Homo sapiens: one gene and its partners. The protein of the gene in region 1 interacts with the protein of each later gene in a pairwise test. Each region holds a gene or a part of one and is shown on either strand. Other genes may lie near its edges.

Evidence for each region.
Region 2: the proteins of STAT5B (region 1) and INSR interact in a two-hybrid assay, tested with the Homo sapiens proteins (one study listed by IntAct).
Region 3: the proteins of STAT5B (region 1) and ZNF410 interact in binary tests that used the Homo sapiens proteins (3 or more experiments, as listed by UniProt).

The regions. Positions count from the first base shown.
Region 1 is NC_000017.11:42,273,256-42,281,106, forward strand, and holds the start of STAT5B (signal transducer and activator of transcription 5B), read right to left. Parts: upstream 3,137-7,851; 5' UTR 2,993-3,136; intron 2,379-2,992; exon of another isoform or gene 1-2,378. UniProt on the Homo sapiens protein: Carries out a dual function: signal transduction and activation of transcription. Mediates cellular responses to the cytokine KITLG/SCF and other growth factors. Binds to the GAS element and activates PRL-induced transcription.
Region 2 is NC_000019.10:7,291,283-7,299,018, reverse strand, and holds the start of INSR (insulin receptor isoform Long preproprotein), read left to right. Parts: upstream 1-4,604; 5' UTR 4,605-5,127; coding exon 5,128-5,227; intron 5,228-7,736. UniProt on the Homo sapiens protein: Receptor tyrosine kinase which mediates the pleiotropic actions of insulin.
Region 3 is NC_000014.9:73,882,678-73,889,858, reverse strand, and holds the start of ZNF410 (zinc finger protein 410), read right to left. Parts: upstream 3,001-7,181; 5' UTR 2,944-3,000; intron 1-2,943. Other genes in the region: PTGR2 (prostaglandin reductase 2), read right to left, coding at 5,682-5,758. UniProt on the Homo sapiens protein: Transcription factor that binds to the sequence motif 5'-CATCCCATAATA-3', and is specifically required to silence expression of fetal hemoglobin in adult erythroid cells.

The DNA of each region.
Region 1 (7,851 bases):
CACAAAGCTCAGAATTAAAAACATTTTCTTCCTTTAAATACCACACATTTGAGGACAGCGATAGTGCAGAGCTAACTTTGAAGCATTATTTTTATTAAGTTGCACAGTTAAAGTATTTTGATACTTTGATATTTTATAGTATCAAAATAAAAGGATATTCTTCTCAAGAGTCCAGTAACCTGGAATTGCCAGATAGCTTTTTAAACGAATAAGTTTCAAATTATCAGAAAAATCATACAAACTAGGGTTATTTTGCTTCCTTTTGTAGGAATAATGCAGTAATCTGCACTCTTAACAGAAAGGGAAAAAATGTGTCACAGATAGAATGTCCAGAAATCTGTGAATAACTTTATGAGATACAGACATTTTTGTAGGGCACGAAAATAGTTAGGCTTCCTTCGATTCCACCTGTAACCTGCATCTAATCTTGAGCATGTTATTTACCTATCTATAACGTCTTCCTTTTACAATAAGACTACCTGTGTCACCTACCTACATAACAACAAGCCAAATAAACCACAACAAATGGATTCATAATATATAAGCCTAACAAAAATTACAGACAATTTGAATACTAACAATACTATGATTTGAAAAAACTCGACTTAAGTATCAAAAAGTAATAAATGGCAACTTTAGTCTTGATGTGGCTTTTACATATGTAAATGACATAAAAACAATCAAGAGAGGAAGAAAATGGAGATGAGATGAAAAGTCAGAGCAGGATAGGAAGTGTTGACCAAAATATTTATGTTGTAACACTCCAAACGATGATAGCACATTTTTCTCCTACAATCATACATACTATGAAGTACACACCTTAAATTTCTGAACACAATCCATATTAATATCCCGTGGGCAAAAAATACAAGCACCGAAAAGGTGAGAACTGATGAGAAGGTGGGATAGTTTACCTAGTTGGGTATATAGCAAAGATTATTTTGTGCAGAGTTTAGCTTCAAGTTATGCAATAACCAAACTACTGGTGATAGAAATCAACTTTTTTTTTCTGATGGTTTGCTTTACAAAAAAAAAAAAAAAAAAAAAAAAAACCTCTCCATTCCTTCCCTGTGTCTCAATCTGGAGCTTGAAATTTCATCTTCCAGAGGCTACAGTAGCAAACAAGTCATCTCCTAGATAACGCGCTTACCTGACCCAAGGTGTGGACTTGTTTGAATTAAACGTAACAGATACCACAAATTGTCACATAGGAAGTTTTTCTTAAAATCAGCAGCCCCTTCTCTTATTTAGCCATGTCCATTCTAACAACTGTGATCTTCCATGAGATGGAAACTGGTACCCAAATGAATAAACAAAACAACCCAAAGCCTTAAAATAAAATCAATCAATAAGATTCTCCCCATTTGAAGTGATCAGAACCACTCCAATATTTACAGTGTTACAAAATGAAATTTTAAAACATGAAAGGCACACTCAATAAAATACATCCTCACCTAGGAACTCACAGGCAATGAACATAACGCAATATAACATAAGCAAATGGACAACAATAGAATGTTGGGGAGAGAGGCACAGTTCTATTACCTTAATTGAAAGATAACAAAATTATTTGAAATAATGTAGACCCAACAGCTGAAAGCTTATTATGGCCCAGGCGGCTATCCAACAGCTTTGGAAACCTAAGATCCAAGCAGACCATAAACACCACTTGAAGACTGAAAAAAATGACATAAGCCCAAGTATGATATTCAGTGTCACGCTGGCCCTTTCAAAGGGCATTCCCTGAGGACACTGCAGAGAAAATGTATGGAATTGTATCTAGGCAAAGATCTGTATACTGCACGATGCTTTGGGAAGAGCACGAATCTCAGAGTCCTTGAAGTTTCAATCCCTGGATACTCAACAAACAGCCGTGTCACCTGAGCAGGCCACTTACTCCACCTATCTGGGCCTCAGTTTCCTCATTTGTACAATAAAAGAATGGCATCATCGCTGGGTTCCTTTCCAGCTCTAACATTCTTTGACCCACTTTTGGCACTATTTATTTGATACGAGGTATGGCGGGATCACAGGGACCAAGAAGAAAAGAACTGACTCTGGCTCTTTGGCAAAGAGAGAATCGGTATCTCTTTTAGTCTTTAAAATTCTTGTGCTTTTCATTAATCCCGTCTTTCTAAAAGCTGACACTTGGTTTTCTTCTTTGGCTTTTCCATCACTGCTGGCTACAAGTGTTTGCAACCGCCTCTTGCTCCGTGTGAGTTCTTTCCTCTTTGTTCACCCCGACCATCTTGCCAGATTCCTTTAGCCTCAGACCAGCTTTTGTGATACAACTCCCCTTCCGACTCTCCATATCTACCCCCCGACACCAGGAGCACTTTTAACCCTTTATCCCTGACTAGAAAGAAAAAGCACACTGCATCCCACGGCCACACGCACGAGCCCAGGCCTGGCGGGTCCTGATGTGGGATCCCGCCCCCCAGAGTCTTATCGAAACGTTCGTATTTGTTGTCTTGATTCCTTATAAGGCCCTGTTTCTTGAAGCTTTGCTAATACCCCCCACCGCACCAGGCACCCCCGCAGGCTCATCCCATCCCCGGAGTCCCGGGAACCTCTTTTGAAAGAAAGAAGTTAAAGCAAGGAAGACGGCTGGGGATATTCGGAATTGCAACGTGAAGGTGTGAGGCGGCTGACAGCAGCCCCCTGAGCTCCTATGGGGTCGGCGCGGGGTCCCCACACACCCACTCAGCACACGCGCACGCAGCCTTTAAAGCGCACGCCCCCCGCGGCGCCGCGGCGTTCGCAAGTCCCCCTCGCGCACCCCGCATTGCCCTCAGCCTCCCCGGCAGCCAACCCGGACCCCCTCTCCCCGCGCGCGCCCCTCGCCCAGCGCGCAACCACCGCGGCCCGGGAGTGATGGCGGCGGCGCGGCCCTGACGGGCGGCTGAGCGGCTGGAGCGCGGGCCCCGCCCGGGCTGGCTCCCCGGCCTGGCTCCCCCGGCCCCGGGCCCAGGGCTCGCCCCGCAGCTCCTACCTCGCTCGGCCCCTCGGGCGCCCGCGGCTGCTCCGGCCCAGCTGTCTGGCTTGCCCGCCCGCCCGCTCGCTCCCTCCCTCGGCCGGGCCGCCGCGCGGAGTTGCCTGCGCTGGGTCCCCGCCCGGGGTGACGGCTCCGGCCGCCGACTCTCCTCCCGCCGGGGCCCGCGGGGGCGCGCGCGCCGCTCACGCGCGGAGGCCCAGGGACGCGCGCCGCTGGCAACCCGGAGCGCGCCCCGCTTCCTGGTTCCGCCCGGCGCGCGCTCGCTAGCCCGCTGTCCCTCGCGCCCCCTCCGCGACCGCCCTTGAAGGACCCGGACCCCCTCGGCACACCCGAGGTGGCGGCGCGCTCGGCGGTGCCGGTGCCGGCGCCGCGCGCACCCCCTTTCTGCGGCGGTGGGGTGTCTTCCCGGCTCGGCTCCCTAGCCGACGCCGCACCGCAAGCACATGCTGCTTTGTTTGGGTTGGGTCGACCACCACTAGCAGGGCTAGGGCGCACTGTCGTGGTCGTTTTGGTTGGCCCCCTCCGCGGCCCGCCCACCTCTCTCCCTGGGAGCCCAGGCCCGCGTTCCGGGTCCTCTCCCGCCGAGGCCGAGGTCAGAAGTCCACAGGGGCCCCGATCAATAATTATCCTGGGTTTGCCCCCGGGAGGGCGTCTCAGCCAGGGCTCCTGCCGCCTGCATGGGCACGGCAGGAATTCACATTCGCCCAGGCCGAATTCACCTGTCCGAGTTCCAGGGTGAACCTACGGGGGACGGGGCGCCTGGGGCCGGTTCCCTTCCTGGGAAAATCTGGCTGGCTCCCACCAGTCAGAGCTGCGGGAGGGACTGCTCTCTCTAGAGAAGAAAGAATAAACAGGGTCATCTGTAGGATCCAGGGGAAGGGGGTCCCCCAGATCCTTTCCACGTGCTGAGGAGGGGGTTGCGGTTGTGGGAAGCCAGGCTGAGTCACCCACTCTCCTTTCCTCTGCTACGTCTATCTCCCGGAGCTGGCCAGCGGTTTCCCTGGCAACCCTCCAAGGGCTAGCACTAAAGCAAGACATAGGAAAGCTCCAGAAGCCAAGCTGCAGGGGCCAAAAGAGAGAGAAGGACCCCTCCCGCCCCCACTCAGACACACAGAGCTCCCCTGTGTGTATGCAAAACGTTCATGTCCAGAGATGGCCCAGAGCTGCAAGTTCTCCCATAGTCCTCCCTGGGCAGCTCTTTCCAGCGGCCTTCTCTTCACCTCCAGAATGACACCAGCCACAAAGGTCTCCAGCTGGTCAAAAAACCCTTCTCCGCTACCCAGGCCACTGCTGCAGTCCCATACTCTGGGCCAACACCTGGCACAGTGCTTTGCACAGAGTAGGTTCAGGGAGCTTGGAGGCCAGAGAAGGAAGCAGGAAGCAGGATGGATGCGCCAACCAACCCCGAGCTCTCTGGCAATCTCCCTGACAGTTACTGCCCATGATGTTTTGACACTCAGGTGCTCCATGTTCTCCATATTTCTCTTTTATCTTTTCTTTTTCTTTTCTTTTTTTTTTTTTTTGAGACGGAGTCTCTCTCTGTTGCCCAGGCTGGAGTGAAATGGTGCGGTCTCAGCTCACGGCAACCTCCACCTCCTGGGTTCAAGTGATTCTCCTTCCTCAGCCTCCTGAGTAGCTGGGATTACAGGCGCACACCACCACATCCGGCTAATTTTTGTATTTTTGTAGTAGAGACGGGGTTTCACCATGTTGGCCAGGCTGGTCTCGAACTCCTGACCTCGTAATCTGCCCGCCTCAGCCTCCCAAAGTGCTGGGATTACAGGCATCAGCCACCGCACCTGACTCATGTTTCTCTTTCTTGTGAGCTTTCATCCCTGCACACATGCTATTCCCTCTGCCTGGAATGTCCTGCCTTCTTGATGTCTGCCCTTCGGTGACATTTGCTTCAGGCAGCATGACCTCCCTCCTTGTTTCCCACCGCGTTATTCATGCCTCTATTACAGCACTTCTTGTGTTGAAGGACAATTTCATGTTTTCATGTTTCTGTCTCTGTCCCCAAGGGCAGACGCAATATGCTATTCACTTTTAAATCCTCCTACTCGTGTTCAAGCCCAGAACAGACACTCAATAAATATTTTTGGAACAAATGCTATGCTCTAGGAATGCAAATGGAGGTTACAAGGACTATGCAGTCATTAAGAGGACAGGGTCTAGCCCGGTGTGGCGACACACACCTGTGGTCCCAGCTACTGAGGAGGCTAAGGTGGGAGGATCACTTGAGCCTGGGAGGTCAAGGGTGTGATGATTTTTTTTTATTTTTATTTTTTGGAGACAGTCTCACAGAAAAAGGTCTCATGGTGTGGTGGCACAATCACAGCTCAAGGCAACCTCCTGGGCTCAAGCAATCCTCCTGCCTCAGCCTTATGAGTAACTGGGACCACAGACGTGCACCACTACTCCCAGATTAATTTTTTAAAATTATTTGTAGGCCGGGCACGGTGGCTCACGCCTGTAGTCCCAGCACTTTGGGAAGCCAAGGTCGGTGGATCACGAGGTCAGGTGTTCCAGACCAGCCTGGCCAATATGTTGAAACCCTGTCTCTACTAAAAATACAAAAATTAGCTGGACGTGGTGGTGCGCGCCTGTAGTCCCAGCTACTGGGGAGGCTGAGGCAGGAGAATTGCTTGAACCCGAGAGGCAGAGGTTGCAGTGAGCCGAGATCACGAAACTGCACTCCAGCCTGGGGCGACAGAGTGAGACTCCATCTCAAAAAAAAAAAAATATTTGTAAAGACAGGGTCTCATTATATTGCCTGGGCTGTTCAAGAACTTATGGCTCAAGCAACCCTCCCTCCTCAGCCTCCCAAAGTGCTGGAATTACATTTGTGAGCCACTGTGCCCAGCCTGAAGCTGTAGTGAGCCATGATTGTGCCACTGCTCTCCAGCCTGGGCGACAGAGTGAGACCTGTCTCAAAAAAAGAAAAAAAAAAAAAAGTACAGGTTCTCAAACCAGACTCTGTCAATTCCTTGAGCTGGGTAATCTTGAGTGTGTTTTCCTCTATCTTCTCGTTTGTAATGTGGTGATAGAGACAGTACCTACCTCATCGGGTTGCGGGAAATAAGTGTTTACTACATGTAAAGTGCTTCACTGTAAAGCACTGTATAGCGGTTAACTACTACTGTGGTGTTTAGTAGCAGCTAAGATGAATACTCCTCTTCCCAAGACCGGCGGTCTAGGACTCAAGCCAGCTGGTTTGTGGCAGCCACAGGGCGCTAGTTTAAATGTCCTGAAGGGGGCCGGGCGCAGTGGCTCACGCCTGTAATCCCAGCACTTTAGGAGGCCGAGGCGGGTGGATCACCCGAGATCGGGAGTTCGAGACCAGCCTAACCAACGTGGAGAAACCTCGTCTTTACTAAAAATACAAAATTAGCTGGGCATGGTGGTGCCATTACAGGATTACATGCCTGTAATCCCAGCTACTTGGGAGGCTGAGGCAGGAGAATCACTTGAAACTGGGAGGCGGAGGTTGCGGTGAGCCAAAATCACACCATTGCACTCCAGCCTGGGCAGCAAGAGCAAAACTCCATCTCAGAAAAAAAAAAAAAAATGTCCTGAAGGGTGGGTGGGAATGCCTCTTGATTCTTGCAGCTCTAGGCACATCTCTGACTGATGGTCACCAGGCACCAAGCTAGACCTGGCTGGGTGTGTGCACAGATGCTGAGGACAGAATGTTCTGGGTCACTACCTCAGCAAAACAGAATGTTGTCATCCTGGGATGGGAAGGCCTGACACCTGCTTCTCTGCTTGACAGTTCTGATGGGGTGGGACCCTCTTCTTCTAGGCCTCGGGGACATATTCCCTTAAATTGAGGGGACACCAGACTTAAGACATGACAGAAAGAAAGAAACTGAACAGGAAGCTAGGATCCTGAAAGACCCCACAGTCCAACCCATCAGGAATGACCCAAGAAGGTACCTGGAGATGCAGCAATGTCCACTGGAGGGTCTCATCCCTTAGTGCACCAGCCTGACCCAGGAGAGAGGCTTGGGGGAAGAGCCTGGGGGTCTAGTCCACAGCCCTTGTCCATGCATGCCCCTGCTCCCATCCTACAGCCTCCTCCCCTCTCTCTCTCATAGATGAACACATGGCTTTCAGAGGGGGCAGCTTCCCTGCTTCACATCCTCCCTCACTCCTGCCCCAGAGATCATGAGGCCATTTTCTGGGAACGTCACTGAAGCCACAACCATGATCCCCTCTGGCCAGAAACCAGAGGCCTTCGTTATTATGGCTTCCCTCCTGCATCCCAGGAGTCAGGCTGACCCTGGGCAACCACCGGCCACACATTTGCTAAGAAAGGGCACTGTGGGAATGTCCCTTTTTCCCTGTGGGGATGAATCCTTCCATAGGGGGATAGGTCAGTACAGGACCCTGGAGCCATGTGGAGAAGGTATAGGATGCTCAACAGAAAAGAAGGCGGGGATGCCAGATCTCCAAGGCCTCAGAATGGCGTGGCCTCGGTTTGGAATGGGCTCTGCAGTTTCGGAGGGCTCTGTCAGTGCCCCTGCTTACTTCTGCCAGAGCATTGGTGGTGAAAAGTTAGATATGGTTCTAAATCCCAGCTCTGCTAACTTACTAGCTGTTGGCCGGGCGCGGTGGCTCACACCTGTAATCCCAGCACTTTGGGAGGCCGAGGCGGGTGGGTCAGGAGGTCAGGCGATCGAGACCATCCTGGCTAACACGGTGAAACCCTGACTCTACTAAAAATACCAAAAATTAGCCGGGCGTGGTGGCGGGCGCCTGTAGTCCCAGCTACTCCGGAGGCTGAGCCAGGAGAATGGCGTGAACCCGGGAGGCTGAGGTTGCAGTGAGCAGAGATCGCGCCACTGCACTCCAGC
Region 2 (7,736 bases), on another chromosome or scaffold:
AAACTTAACTACTTATAGCCTGCTGTTGACCTGAAGACTTAGCAATAACATAAACAGCCGATTAACAGGCATTTTGTATGTTACAAGTATTACATACTGTATTTCTTTCTTTCTTACTTTATTATTATTATTATTTTGAGATAGAGTCTTACTGCATCACCTAGGCTGGAGTGCGCTAGTGGCATGATCTTGGCTCACTGCAACCTCCGCCTGTTAGGTTCAAGTAATTCTCATGCCTCAGCCCTCCAGAGTAGCTGGAATTACAAGCACACCACGCCTGGCTAATTTTTGTATTTTTAGTAAATATGGGGTTTTGTAATGTTGGCCAGGCTGGTCTCGAACTCCTGACCTCAAGTGATCCGCCTCCCTCTGTCTTGCAAAGTGCTGGGATTACAGGAGTGAACCACTGTGCCCAGCCTCTACACACTACAGTCTTAGAATAAAGCAAGTTAGAGAAGAGAAAATGTTATTTAAAAAATCACAGCTGGGCATGGTGTCATGTGGCTGTAATCCCAGCTCCCTGGGAGGCTGAGGCAGGAGGATCACCCGAGATCAGGAGGTAGAGGCTGCAGTGAGCCCTGATGGTGCCACTGCACTCCAGTCTGGGCAGCAGAGTGAAACCCTGTCTCCAAAAAGAAGAAAAAAAGAAAAAGAAAAAGAAAATCACAAGGAAGAGAAAATACATTTACAGTTACAGAACGCTACAATATTTATCAATGCCATAAATTTGTTTACAAGATGAATTGTCTGTCTGAAGCAGACAACCGCAGCTGTAGAGCTCCATTTATGTTACGTAGCAAGCAATTCAACTTTTTCTTGTCCTGTCCTGACTTTTCTCTGCTTCTCGGGAGCATTTCCAGCATCACTAGTGGCACTTTACATGGGTCTCAGGATGTTATTCAATGTTTGCGGTATTGCACTAAACACAGTGAAAAATACGCGGGAACCGCCAAGAGATCCCTTTTTACCGGGGCACAAATTCCTGGAGAGGTGAACTGCCCACAGGGAGATAATTAATGTAACATGGCATTTAAAGCGGATACTTGCAACACTTGCACTCACTCCAGTAGCAACAGGAGGTGGCTATGAAATTGTTACAATAACACAATATATTCTATAGTTAATTTTATGCAGTTATGATTGAATGCTGCATCTTTACATTTATTTACATTTCTCTTGACTTGGAATAACACCATGTATGGTTTGTAAGTGTGTGTGTACGTTTTAATACATTTTAACTTTTTGTAACAGATTTGTGTATATTTTATGTTAGCAAATTATAAAATAGGGCTGGACATGGTGGCTTATACCTGTAATCTCGGCACTGTGGGAGGTAGAGGCAGGAGGATCACTTGAGTTCAGGAGTTAGAGACCAGCCTGGGCAACATGGTGAGACCTCGTCTCTATAAAAAGTAAAAAAATTAGCCGGGCGTGTTGGTGCTTGCCAGGAAGATCGCTTGAACCCAGGAGTTGGAGGTTACAGTGAGCCATGATTGGGCCACTGCTCTCCAGCCTGGGCAACAGAGCAAGACCCTGTCTCTAAAAGAAAATAATAACAAAAATAATAAAACAGACTAGTATCTACATATATTTTATGCATTCATGACATACCTAATTTTTTTTTAATATTTCTTGGCTACCAAGTTCATCTGCAAGTCTTTTCAAACTATTGCAAATCTCTAAAAATGTTTCCAATATATTTATTGAAAAACATTCTGTTTAAAGATGACCTCACTTTGGGAGGCTGATCAGATCAGCTGAGGTCAGGAGTTCGATACCAGCCTGGCCAACATGGTAAAATCCCGTCTGTACTAAAAATACAAAAATTAACCGGGTGAGGTGGCGTGTGCCTGTAGTCCCAGATACTTGGGAAGCTGAGGCAGGAGAATAGCTTGAACCCTGGAGGTGGAGATTGCAGTGAGCTGAGATTGCTCCACTGCACTCCAGCCAGGGTGACAGAGCGAGACTCTGCCTCAAAAAAAAAAAAAAAAAAGATGTGCACGGTTCAAACTCATGTTCAAGGGCCCACTGCAGTTCTCACCCATGGCTTCACTTTCTCCTCTTTCTTTTCTGCAGCTACAGTGAATGCCTGGTTCAGTTGCAAGAATGCCTTGCCCACTCTCCTCTGGGCCTTTGCTCATGCCTTCCCCCACCTGAAACACATCCCTATGGCTTCCCTAGGATGGCTCCTCTTCATTTTCAGACTTAAGCTCAAAATCACATCCTCAGTCAGGTGCAGTGGCTCACGCGTCTGTAATCCCAGCAATTAGGGAGACCGAGACAGGCAGATCTCTTGAGGTCAGGAGTTCAAGACCAGCCTGTCCAATATGGTGAAACCCTGCCTCTACTAAAAATACAAAAATTAGGCAGGCGTGGTGGCATGCACCTGTAATCCCAGCTACTCTGGAGGCTGAGGCAGGAGAATTGCTTGAACCTGGGAGGCGGAGGTTGCAGTGAGCCAAGATCGTGCCACTGCACTCCAGCCTGGGCAACAGAGTAAGATCCATCAAAAAACAAACAAACAAAAAACCCCATGTCCTCAGCAAACCCCTCCCTATGCACCTCCCATTTCCCTCAGCTCATTACACACTCAATTATTTTAAGGGCTCTCTCCCTGGCTCAGTTGTGAACTCCATAAGGAAATGGGTCATGTTTATTTTGCTCACTGAAAAATCCCCTATTACTTATTGCTTGTTGATTCTCCCACTCAACAAATATTTATTAAGCAACAGATTTGTCAGGCACTGGGTTTAAGCAGTGAAACAAGACCGAAAAGATTTCCGCCTTCACGGGAAGGGGAGAAGACACAGAAAACGAATAAGAATTTCAAGGCCAATCATGGTGGCGCATGCCTGTAATCCTAGCACCTTGGGAGGCCAAGGCAGGAGGATTGCTTGAGGCCAGGAGTTCAAGGCTGCAGTAAGCTAGGATTGCACCACTGCATTCCTGCCTGGGTGACAGCAAGATTCTGTCAAAAGGAAAAAAAAAGAAAGAAAAGAAAAAAAAAAAACAAACAATTGCAGGTAGTGGGGTAAACATGCTATGAAAATGAGAGAGAAGGGGCCAGGCGCAGTGGCTCAGGCCTGTAATCCCAGCACTTTGGGAGGCCAAGGCCGGTGGATCACCTGAGGTCAGGAGTTTGAGACCGGCCAGGCCAACATGGTGAAATCCTGTCTCTACTAAAAATACAGAAAATTAGCTGGGTGTGCTGGCGCATGCCTGTAATCCAAGTTACTTGGGAGGTTGAGGCAGGAGAATCACTTGAACCCAGGCAGGTGATGTTGCAGTGAACTGAGATCTGGCCATTGCACTCCAGCCTGGGCAACAGAGAAAAACTCCATCTAAAAAAAAAAAAAAAAAAAAAAAAAAAAAAAAAAAAAAAAAAACAGAGAGAGAGAGAGAGAGAAGGAAACGGAACTGGGGGGAGGATTTGCAAAAATATGGTTAGGGATGGCACTTCAGAGATGAAGCCATCCTGGAGTGTTACGGGCAAGGGAAATGCTGGGGCAAAGGCCCAGAGGCAGGAATAGGTTTGGCCTGTTGCATGAACAGTGGGTCCAGCTCCTAGCAAACTGTTTATTGAATGAAAGAAGAATGAATGCCTTGGGTCTAGGGTTGTGCTGGGCGCTTTCTTAAGTTTTCTTTCCCGGGTACCTCCCCAGAACTGGCATGCAGGTATTATTAAACCCATTACACAAGTGAAACTGGCCCAGAGACAGAAAAGTCCCTGGTCCAAGACCACACAGGAGTGAGGGGTGGAGGAACCCTCCTCCCATTGAGTTCTGGCTTTCCTATACTGAAAGCCCCTTCCTCTCCTGCAGTAAGGTAGGTGGAACCGCTGTCCCGCCTTGTTGGTGAATGTCGTTGCTAGACTTCAGACACATACAGGCTGGTCTGCTGAAAATCAGAGATGTCCACCTGCGCCCTATTCGAGGTCTCCGGCGTCTTCTTTGGCGTCGTCTTTGCCCTTTCAGAAGCGTCTGCACATTTTTCCAGGTGTCATTTCTCCAACTTGAACACAGGGAGCGCACTGGGCACGCGGGCACGTGGCTGTCCCCAGGGGCCTGGCTTGGGTCTCGCCCCTGGGCCGGGGCGCACTCGCGGGCGGGACATCTGGGGGCGCCCACGCGCTCTGGGACGAGTGTCGCTGGCCAGGCCCGGACTGAGGAAAGGCGAGTGAGACACTACTCGCCTGGGGTGCAAAATTTAAGGGAGTGAAAAAAAAAAAAAAAGAAAGAAACCAAAACCACCTCGAGTCACCAAAATAAACATTTTAATGCAGTATTTTTTAAAAAATCAACAGGAATCCTCCAAAGCCCACTATGAACAAAATAGCAAAATGGTAGAGAAAGGATCTGTGCCGCTGCGTCGGGCCTGTGGGGCGCCTCCGGGGGTCTGAAACTGGAGGAGACTCGGGGCTGTAGGGCGCGCGGATCTGGGGCGCGCCCTCGGTCCCGGCGCGCCCAGGGCCTCCCGCGCGGGGCCCGGCACAGGGAGGCGGGGAGGCGGGCGGGGCGGGGCGGGGCCGGGCGGCACCTCCCTCCCCTGCAAGCTTTCCCTCCCTCTCCTGGGCCTCTCCCGGGCGCAGAGTCCCTTCCTAGGCCAGATCCGCGCCGCCTTTTCCCGCGGCCCGCACGGGGCCCAGCTGACGGGCCGCGTTGTTTACGGGCCCGAGCAGCCCTCTCTCCCGCCGCCCGCCCGCCACCCGCCAGCCCAGGTGCCCGCCCGCCAGTCAGCTAGTCCGTCGGTCCGCGCGTCCCTCTGTCCCGGAGCCCGCAGATCGCGACCCAGAGCGCGCGGGGCCGAGAGCCGAGAGACAGTCCCGGGCGCAGCGCGGAGCTCCGGGCCCCGAGATCCTGGGACGGGGCCCGGGCCGCAGCGGCCGGGGGGTCGGGGCCACCACCGCAAGGGCCTCCGCTCAGTATTTGTAGCTGGCGAAGCCGCGCGCGCCCTTCCCGGGGCTGCCTCTGGGCCCTCCCCGGCAGGGGGGCTGCGGCCCGCGGGTCGCGGGCGTGGAAGAGAAGGACGCGCGGCCCCCAGCGCCTCTTGGGTGGCCGCCTCGGAGCATGACCCCCGCGGGCCAGCGCCGCGCGCTCTGATCCGAGGAGACCCCGCGCTCCCGCAGCCATGGCCACCGGGGGCCGGCGGGGGGCGGCGGCCGCGCCGCTGCTGGTGGCGGTGGCCGCGCTGCTACTGGGCGCCGCGGGCCACCTGTACCCCGGAGAGGGTGAGTCTGGGGGCGCGGGCGTGGGCGGGGAGCGCCGCGATGGGGAGAGGACCCCACCCAAGCCAAAATCGAGCCCCCGCTTGTGGACTGAGAACCCTCCCCAGGGGCGGGGGGCGGTGGCCAGGACGGTAGCTCCTGCATCGCGTAGGGGGAGCGGGAAGCCTCTGACCTTGGCCTTTGCCCGCCCGGGCTCGCGCCTCCGCGCCCTGCGTGCCCGACCTGAGCCCGAGGAACCTTGCCCCGGTGCCCGCCCCGCCGCGGGCTCCTCTCTGGAGCGCGCCTCCGACCCGTGCCCCGGCCCCTCCGAGCCCAAGTCGCTCCGGAGACACGACACGCGTCATCTTTGGGTCGCGGCCGGGAAGTGGGGTCACTGGGTCTGGACAGCCCCGAACAGCCAAGTCCCCCGAGCGCATATGGTGTAGGTAGAGCCAAGCGCCCTGAGTGCCTCACCGGTGGGTGACGCTGCCTGGGGTCAGGGACTGCAGAGCCCCCCTCTACCCAACTACCTTGGATCTAGGCCCGTGGCCACCCCGGACTCTAGGTCCATGTTTACCCTTTTGGGTTCTGTTTCCAGATGTCCGGAGGCAAATTCTAAAGCCTTAGCAACAGCAGCAATTGTAGCAGAAGTAGTGGCGGTTTTTTACCCTATTTATTGTAATTGGTATCACCGCACGCCACAGCCTAGTCTATCTTATCTCTCTGGACTGTCACAGTGGCCCCCGGAGGCAGATACAGTTATGCACCCATTTCACAGAGGAGTAAACTGAGGCTCATGTAGGACGCATAACTCCCTTGCCCTAAAGTCAGTGCCAGAGCCAGGACTTGAGCCTCTGTGTGTCCCGTTCTGCCCAAGAATCTGGACTACTGTCCCTTGTCTGCTGTCTCCTTGACCCCTCCTCTCCCCTCAGCCCTGCGCTTCATGAAGGAGCCTTTGACCTTGAGTGAGCCTTTCGTTCCCCCTGACCCCATGGGCCCCTCTCCCACGTGTGGGCAGCATCTTCCTTGGGCTTGACAATAGGCACCTTTGGGGTTGTAAGATGAAGATGGCGCAATCATTTAAGGAATATAGCCTGGGTTTCCCACTGTGGGGTCTGAGGCCCTGCTTTAAAAATATCTGTTGGGTTACTGTTTCAGATTTCTCCATAAAAGGAAATCAGTCGTGATGAGGAAGGGGTCAGGGAGGGAAGGAATTGAAGCTCTTAAATGTATTGATGGGGAAACGGGTGCATGTAAAATCAGGTGCTAGAGTGGACCAACCGGGTTTGCTGAGTCGACTCTGTCAATCACATAATGTCTAAAAGCCCCGGGCCCACCCCCCCCCAGCCCCGCCCCCAGGTGCCTGGGAGACAGTAGGTGCTCAATGAAGGGTGGCGGTTAGTTGGAGTTCTTGTTAAGAAAATCTGGCCAGCTGCGGTGGCTCAAGCCTGTAATCTCAGCATTTTGGGAGGCTGAGGCGGGCGGATCACGAGGTCAGGAGATGGAGACCATCCTGGCCAACATGGTGAAACTCCCTTCTCTGCTCAAAATACAAAAATTACCTGGGTTTGGTGGCGTTCGCCTGTAGTCCCAGCTACTTGGGAGGCTGAGGCGGGACAATTGCTTGAACCCGGGAGGAGGAGGTTGCTGTGAGCTCAGATGGCACCACTGCACTCCAGCCTGGCCAAAGAGCGAGACTTTGTCTCAAAAAAATAAAAAAAAAGGCGGGGCGTGGTGGCTCACGCTTGTAATCCCAGCACTTTGGGAGGCCGAGGCGGGTGGATCACCAGTTCAGGAGATCACGACCATCCTGGCTAACACGGTAAAACCCTGTCTCTACTGAAAAATAGAAAAAATTAGCCGGGCGTGGTGGCGGGCGCCTGTAGTCCCAGCTATTCCGGAGGCTGAGGCAGGAGAATGGCGTAAACCCGGGAGGCGGAGCTTGCAGTGAGCCAAGATCGTGCCACTGGGCGACAGAGCGAGACTCTGTCTCAAAAATAAATAAATAAATAAAAAGAAAATCCAAGATGAGTGGTTTCGAACTATGCCAGATTCTATGTGTGCGTGTGTGTGGTTCCCTGTTCTTCTGTTCCTTGTAGCTTTGGTAATTAATTGTGGATCTGTGCCTGGGCTTTCAGGGTCAGTAAATGGATTTACCATTTCTTTGCACATTTATGGCTTCCATATGGGCAGGGGTTTATGGTTTGTTGTTGTTCACCGTTGCATTTCTAGAGCCCAGAACGATGCCTGGCACATAGTAGGTGTTCAGTAAATATTTGTTCTGCAGTGGGGCACAAGTGGTGGAGTTCCTGGGTGTACTGGGCTCCTTTATCATCTTAAGGAGTTCCTTATTCTCTGCATAATACCTTCCTAAGAATTAGAAGAGCAAGCTCTCAGCAGGTGCTGTTCTATGCGCTTTGCATATATAATCTCAGTTAATCCTCACGGCAAAACCCCACGAGGTGCGGTTTAATCTTCCCTTTTCACAAGTGAGAAAACTTCGCTTGAGGCCAGCAGGCAGCAGGGCTGGGAT
Region 3 (7,181 bases), on another chromosome or scaffold:
CTCCACTGTACTCCAGCCCGGGCGACAGAGCAAGACTCTGTGTCGAGAAAAAAAAAAAAAAAACTAACCATTTACAAGATATAAATGGAAATGCTCCTTCCAAGTTTCCCACATAAAGTATCATAAATCCCTGACTTTTCTTCCACACATATTTTTCTTATTCAAGCACTGCAACAGTTTCATATGGTTTATCCATCCCTCTATTTAGAGAGGAAGGAACCAAGGCTCAGTATATTACTTAATTACCAAGTTATTAAGTTGCAAAGCCAGGACTCCCACCCACACCAGAAGTATGCAGAAATCATTGGCGTGAATAGTGATTACATCTCTCTAGGTTTGACCCTGAATCTCCATGGCCTAAGAATTCCTTTTCTCAGCCTAGGCAACACAGTGAGACCCTATTTCTTTTTTTTTTTTTTTTTTTTTTGAGACTGAGTCTCGCTCTGTCACGCAGGCTGGAGTGCAGTGGCGCGATCTCAGCCAGTGAGACTCTATTTCTACAAAAAAAAATTTTTCAATTAGCATCACATGGTGGCACATGCCTGTGGTCCTAGCTACTAGGGAGGCTGAGTAGGAGGATTGCTTTAGCCCAGGAGATCGAGGCTGCACTGAACAGTGATCACGCCACTGCACTCCAGCCTGGGTAACAAATGGAGGCTGTCTCAAAAAAAACAAGAATTCCTCTTCCCCAATTCCAGCTTGTCTTAACAAGCCAAGAAATTATCAGATGTTTGTTGTTTAAGTCATCCTTAAGGTTCCTCCAACTTTGAGATTCCAGGATTGTAAAATCTCTGAGGAACCAGACAACTATTTACTGTCCTTTTTATGTTATCTATGACATCTTTTTATTTCAGTGTTTTCACTTCAATAATCTTTAAAAATTAACACGAGCATTTTCTCAAGCACTGGGTATTCATATTATAACTAAGTACTACCATACAATTTTTGTGTCCAAGTTTATGATTTGTATGTGTACGGTATGAATAAAATAAAAAATAGCAGGATGCATTAAGATATGCAACTGAACTCAAAAGAATTTGTACTAGAGCACTCAGTATCTTATCAAGTGTACTGTGGGGATCTCATCTTTAACAGAGCAACGTACTATGTACATTAGCTATAGGTGTAACGGCAAATACACAATTAAACATTCCTATTCCCAATTCCTTACTCAACAGATTTCCAAAACTGCAATGTAAATCTTTTTTAAAAATTAGTTTCACTAAGATATCGTTCACATACCATACTATTGACTCATTTAAAGAGTACAATTAAAATATCTTTAGTTCATTCAGAGTTGTACAAGCAGAACCACGATCAATTTTACAATATTTCATCACCTCACAAGGAAACCCTGTGCCCATTAACGGTCACTTCCCACTTCTAATGTGTTTACTATGAGCTTAAAGGGCTTCCATACAAGCTTCCCAGTAAGCAACTGGTAGGTACTAAATATTTGTATAATGAATGAATGACACTACAAATGATACCTACATTTTTCTCTAGTCATCTCTTCTGAACTCCAAACCTTCATTTCTAACTGCTTGCTAGGTATCTCCACATGTATATCCAACAGCATCTCAAACCTAACAATGTCCAAAATCCAGATTATTATCTTCCTTACCAAACCTGTTCTTCTTGTATTACCTATTTCAATGATCGCCCAATCTTCCTCCCACTCAGCTGCAAATTCTAGGTCTTTAAATCTCTCTCATTCTCCATTTTTAAATAATTCCCGTGATTCTCTGTTCCCAGAATGTTCTCTGTTCCCTACTGTAATGCCCTGTTTAGGTCTCTCAGTAACTTTCTACTATACTATTAAAACAGGCCTCTAACTGGTCACCCCGCGTTTAAAATTCCTCTTTCCAATACATCCTTTATGCAGCCATTCAAGTTATCTTTCCAAAACAAAGAAATGCTTATGTCACTTCTACTCAAAGTTCAGTGCCTCGGAAAAATTGTCATAGCCCTAAAGGTAAACCCCTTCGTTTACAGAAAAACTCCCCAGAGCTAGAGATTCAGCAACTTGCCAAAAATTAGACATCTACTTAGATGCAAAACGTAAAAAACTAGAACTTAAAACTTCTGACTGCTACTTTAGTTGTCTTTTACTCTGCACCACACTAAGAAAAAACCAAGTGCAATTTCTCACTCCCTAACAAAATGCCCGACTTTATTTCCAAATGTTTTTTATTTATTGCAAATATGCTGCGTTGACCTTCGTTCCAACCTAAGTACTAATTCTTAAGTCCCAAGTTAATAATATTTAACTTCCAAATGGTGCCTAAATGCATTTCTGAGCCTCATGATCAAGTGGGATAAACTTTAATAAATTGGATTATCTTGAGAAACTTCAGAAAATAAATTCGACACGAAATGTATGAAGGCCGTAAACAATCCACACACTCCTGCCCCCCGAACTGACAGGCAAAGGAGAAACGGGCGACCCAGCCCAGCCGAGTAGGCAGCTGTCCCTTTTCCAAACCCAGAAAGTAAGTGGTATGAAAGGAGAGGGTAGCTCTGGACTGAAACATTCAGGGCAAGGCCTCCTGGCATCCTCTACCCCACACCACAAAGGCCTCAGAAATAAGGCCCCAAGGTCCGTAGGCAGGCCCCGGCTGCGGGTGCAGTCCAAGAGCCCCCGCCCCGGGGACTCGCTGACTCTGGCTTTCTCAGGACAGTCTGTTCCTATATCCCTACCCCCAAAACCAAGCAAAGGAGCAAGAACATCGCCCCTAAAAACCCGCGAGGGGAAGGGCCAAAGCCGCAGGGCTTCAGACTGGCCGCTCCCGGGCCCGCCAGATCCAGGAGGGATGCCCAAGGAGGGCGGTTTCCTCTCTCGGGGCGAACTCGGCCCCAGGCCCCAAGTAGCCGGTACTGGCCCCCGCCCTCTCGGGTACTACCTAACCGAGGAGGGGTGGCCAGGCCCACCTCGGAGCTCACCTTCCAGTTCCGGGAAGCCGGCCGGCCGTCAGTCGGTCCCGAATTCCGTCCACACACAGCGTCTTCCGGCTCCCGCCGGAAGCAGCTCGAGCGCGGGACAGGAAGTTTGGCTGACCCCCCACGCACACACCCACTCGCTCGCCTCAGTGTCGTGTGGCTGCCGCACTGCTCGGGACCCAGACGTCAAGGGTGCTGGCGGGGCCTCCCCAGGCCCGCGACGCAGGGCTCCGCCCCGGACAGGAGGAGCCGCAGCCGCCCCGCTCCCACTCACTCACTCACTCTCGGCCTTCGGGACTCCTATGTCCGCGAAGCCCGAAAAAACAGGTCAGCTAATTCGTTGACGTCACTGCCACCCCGCAGTAGCGGAGGGAGTAGTTTTTCCCATCAGCGGAGGCGTTGCAATGGAGGCAAACGCGAAAGAAAAGATCACTGCTTAAACATTTATCAAAGGTCTCCATGGAGAGGACCTTCGAAGTTTCACCGCCCGAGAAAGGAACTTGCAGAATCAAGTTTTGCATTATATACGGGACGGGGTATGCAGTGAGTCTGGGTTCCGTGTTGTAATTAGGATGTAAAGAGCTCTTGGATGTCCCGACTGCGGGCTTGAACACTTGACTTCCAAGCTGGATGCCACCTTGTTAAAGCTTTGTGAGTTTGACTGACTTCTTGAAATTACTTATTTTAAAATATTTGCGTGCGGAAGAATGAGAGACTCAACCGTGGGAATTAAAGGAGTTCTCTTTAAAAAGGCATTTTCAAGGTTAAAGATAAGCCTTGATGACAGGTTTGGGTACACAAATTACTAATGGTGATTTAAAATAAAGGAGAAACATTTCAGAGGAAGATAATTCCACTTTAGAAAAGCAGAGTAGGCCGGACTCCGTGGCTCACGCCTTTAATCCCAGCACTTTGGGAGGCTAAGGTGGGCGGATCACGAGGTCAGGAGATCGAGACCATCCTGGGTAACGCCGTGAAAACCCGTCTCTACTAAAAACACAAAAATTAGCCGGGCGTGGTGGCACGCGCCTGTAATCCTAGCTACTCGGGAGGCTGAGGCAGGAGAATCGCTTGAACCCGGGAGGCGGAGGTTGCAGTGAGCCGAGATCGTGCCGCTGCACGCCGGGCGACTGAGCAAGACTCCATCTCAAAAAAGAAAAGAAAAGAAAAAAGCAGAGTATAAGATGCAATCCAGAGTTGAGGATATTTACTTGGAGGTAAAGGTCCAGTGCTCAAGAAAGAGGTCAGAAATACAGATGGAGATTTGGGAGTTAGCAACATACAGAGAAAAGTGAAACCCCCTCAGGCGATGAAATGGTCCAGGAAAAGTAACAAAAAAGGGCCACTCACGAAAACTGGGGAGGCTGATTACCAACACAGTTTGAATCTACTTATTACAAATGTTGCATACAAAAGTATATTGGCAGTGTGTAGACAATCATAAGCCAAAACATTCAGAAACAATAATCTTCAGTTTTACTGTTCTGCGAGGGTTGAGTACAATTAATAAAACAAACTTTTGAGGTACATCAGTAGTTCCTGAACATTCATGTTTACAAACATTTGTTAATTTGCCCAGTCCTGTCATTTTCTGAAACTGTCTTTGTTGTCAATCTGTTTTTGTTTTTTGAGATGGAATTTCACTCTTGTCGCCCAGGCTGGAGTGCAATGGTGCAAGCTCAGCTCACGGCAACCTCCCCCTCCCAGGTTCAAATGATTCTCCAGCCTCAGCCTCCTGAGTAGCTGGGATTACAGGCGTGTGCCACCACGCCCAGCTAATTTTTGTATTTTTAGAGAGATGGGGTTTCACCGTGTTGGCCAGGCTGGTCTTGAACTCCTGACCTCAAGTGATCTGCCCGCCTCTGCCTCCCAAAGTGCTAGGATTACAGGCTTGAGACATCAGGCCCGGCTGTCAATCTTTTTAATCACCTACAAGTGATGTTTACATCTGTTTGCCCTCTCAATCTTTACAACTTGACAGTATGTGCCTGCTAACCTAAAATAAACATATGCTTTTCTCAATATATATGGAGTTTTTAGGCTATACAGTAAATTATTTGGCAAATACAAAGAGATGATCCTCTGGAGTAAATCTTGTCAACTTAACCAACCTAAGTTATTTATCTTCCCATACTAATCCCAACCCAAAACCGCTGGTCTCCTATCCCAAAAACTGTTACACAAGCTCCGAAACCCCCAATCCTGCCCCCAGTCCCTATGTACACATCATACCATTAAGTCTCTTTTCAGTCTACAATGTGAAAAAAAGGCCATCTCAATTCTATTTTTACACCAAGTTTCAGTTTAAGAATCATGTAAAACATTTCCAGTTCAACAAATCTTTACTCAGTGCCTCTCAAGCATTCTATTTTATTTTAAGCATTCTATTTTAAATTAATAAAAGTTATTAATATTAATTTTAAAAAACCTATTGTGTATGATTCATTAATGGTTGTATCAGATCATGTAAAACGTTTCCAGTTTAACAAATCTTTACAAAGTGCCTCTCAAGCGTTCTATTTTAAATTAATAAAAGTAATTACTAAAAGTTATTAATTTTTAAAAACCTATTGTGTATGATCCATTAATGATTGTATCAAATACCCTATGCAACTAAAAATAACACCTATGATCACATTTAAATCAAGAGCTATGTATAGTCTAAGGATTTTTTAACATATCTTTGAAAATATGCAAAATGGAAAAGAAATCTATGATTGCCTTGATGACATTTACAGCAATTACAAAGAGATTTCTTCTGAAATGCAAACTATCTGCTTTCCAATGTTACCTCCTGTCATCATGGACTGGAATGCAGCTGGAAAAAGAGAAAGTAGGTTATCTGAAAAGATAAATGTCACTATCATACTTGTTTCCAAAAGGTACAACATATAAAATTATGTTAAATAACTTTTTCAATGATTTTGAATATTAAGCATAGAAGAAAATGGTCATGAAAAGAAATCTCAAGTAAAAAGTTACACACAAACTAACCCAATTAACATCTTAAAAAAATGTTTTGCCCATACTGGAAAGATTTAATTGGTATCTAACTGGTATGCACATCAATGTTCATTGTTTACAGTATCTGAAGACTAGAGGCAAAAAAAAATGGGAATAAAATGTGAGTGAAGGCCGGGCATGGGGCCTCACGACTGTAATCCCAGCACTTTGGGAGGCCAAGGTGGGTGGATCACTTGAAGTCAGGAGTTTAAGACCAGCCTGACCAACATGGTGAAACCCCATCTCTACTAAAAATACAAAAATCAGCTGGGAGTGGTGGTGTGTGCCTGTAGTCCCAGCTACTCGGGGGGCTAAGGTGGGAGCATCACCTGAACCTGGGAGGTAGAGGCTGCAGTGAGCCATGATCGCACCACTGCACTCCAGCCCGGGTGACAGAGCATGGCCCTGTCTCAAAAATTAAAAAAAGGGCTAGGCACTCACACCTGTAAATTCCAGCACTTTGGGAGGCTGAGGCAGAAGGATCATTTGAGGCCAGGAGTTGCCTGGACAATATAGTGAGACCCTGTTTCTATGGAAAATTAAAAAAAAAAAAAAGGTTGGGCATAGTGGCAGGTAATTGTAGTACCAGCTACTCTGGTGAGAGGATTGCTTGAGCCCATGGGTTCATAAGTTACAGTTAGCTATGATCATGCCACTGCACTCCAGCCTGGGCAACAGAGCAAGATCATCTCTTTAAAAAAAAAAAAAAAAAAAAAAAAAAAAAAAAGGGAGGTGAGGGGAGGGAAGGGCAGGGAAGGGGAGGCCAGAGAGGTAGCATTAAAAGATAAAAGACTTTGGCCTGTGCGGTGGCTCACGCCTGTAATCCCAGCACTTTGAGAGGCCGAGGCAGGCAAATCACTTGAATTCAGGAGTTCAAGACCAGCCTGGCCAATATGTTGAAACCCTGTCTCTACTAAAAATACAAAAATTAGCCAGGCATACCAGTGCACGCCTGTAGTCCCAGCTACTTGGTAGACTGAGGCAGGAGAATTGCTTGATCTCGGGAGGTGGAGGTTGCAGTGAGCCAAGATCATACCACTGCACTCCAGCCTGGGAGACAGAGCAAGACTCCGTCTCAAAAAAAAAAAAAAAAAAAAAAAAAAAAAAAAAAAAAAGGGCCAGGCGTGGTGGCTCACGCTTGTAATCCCAGCACTTTGGGAGGCCAAGGCAGGCAGATCACGAGGTCAGGAGATCGATACCATCCTGGCTAAGACAGTGAAACCCCGTCTCTACTAAAA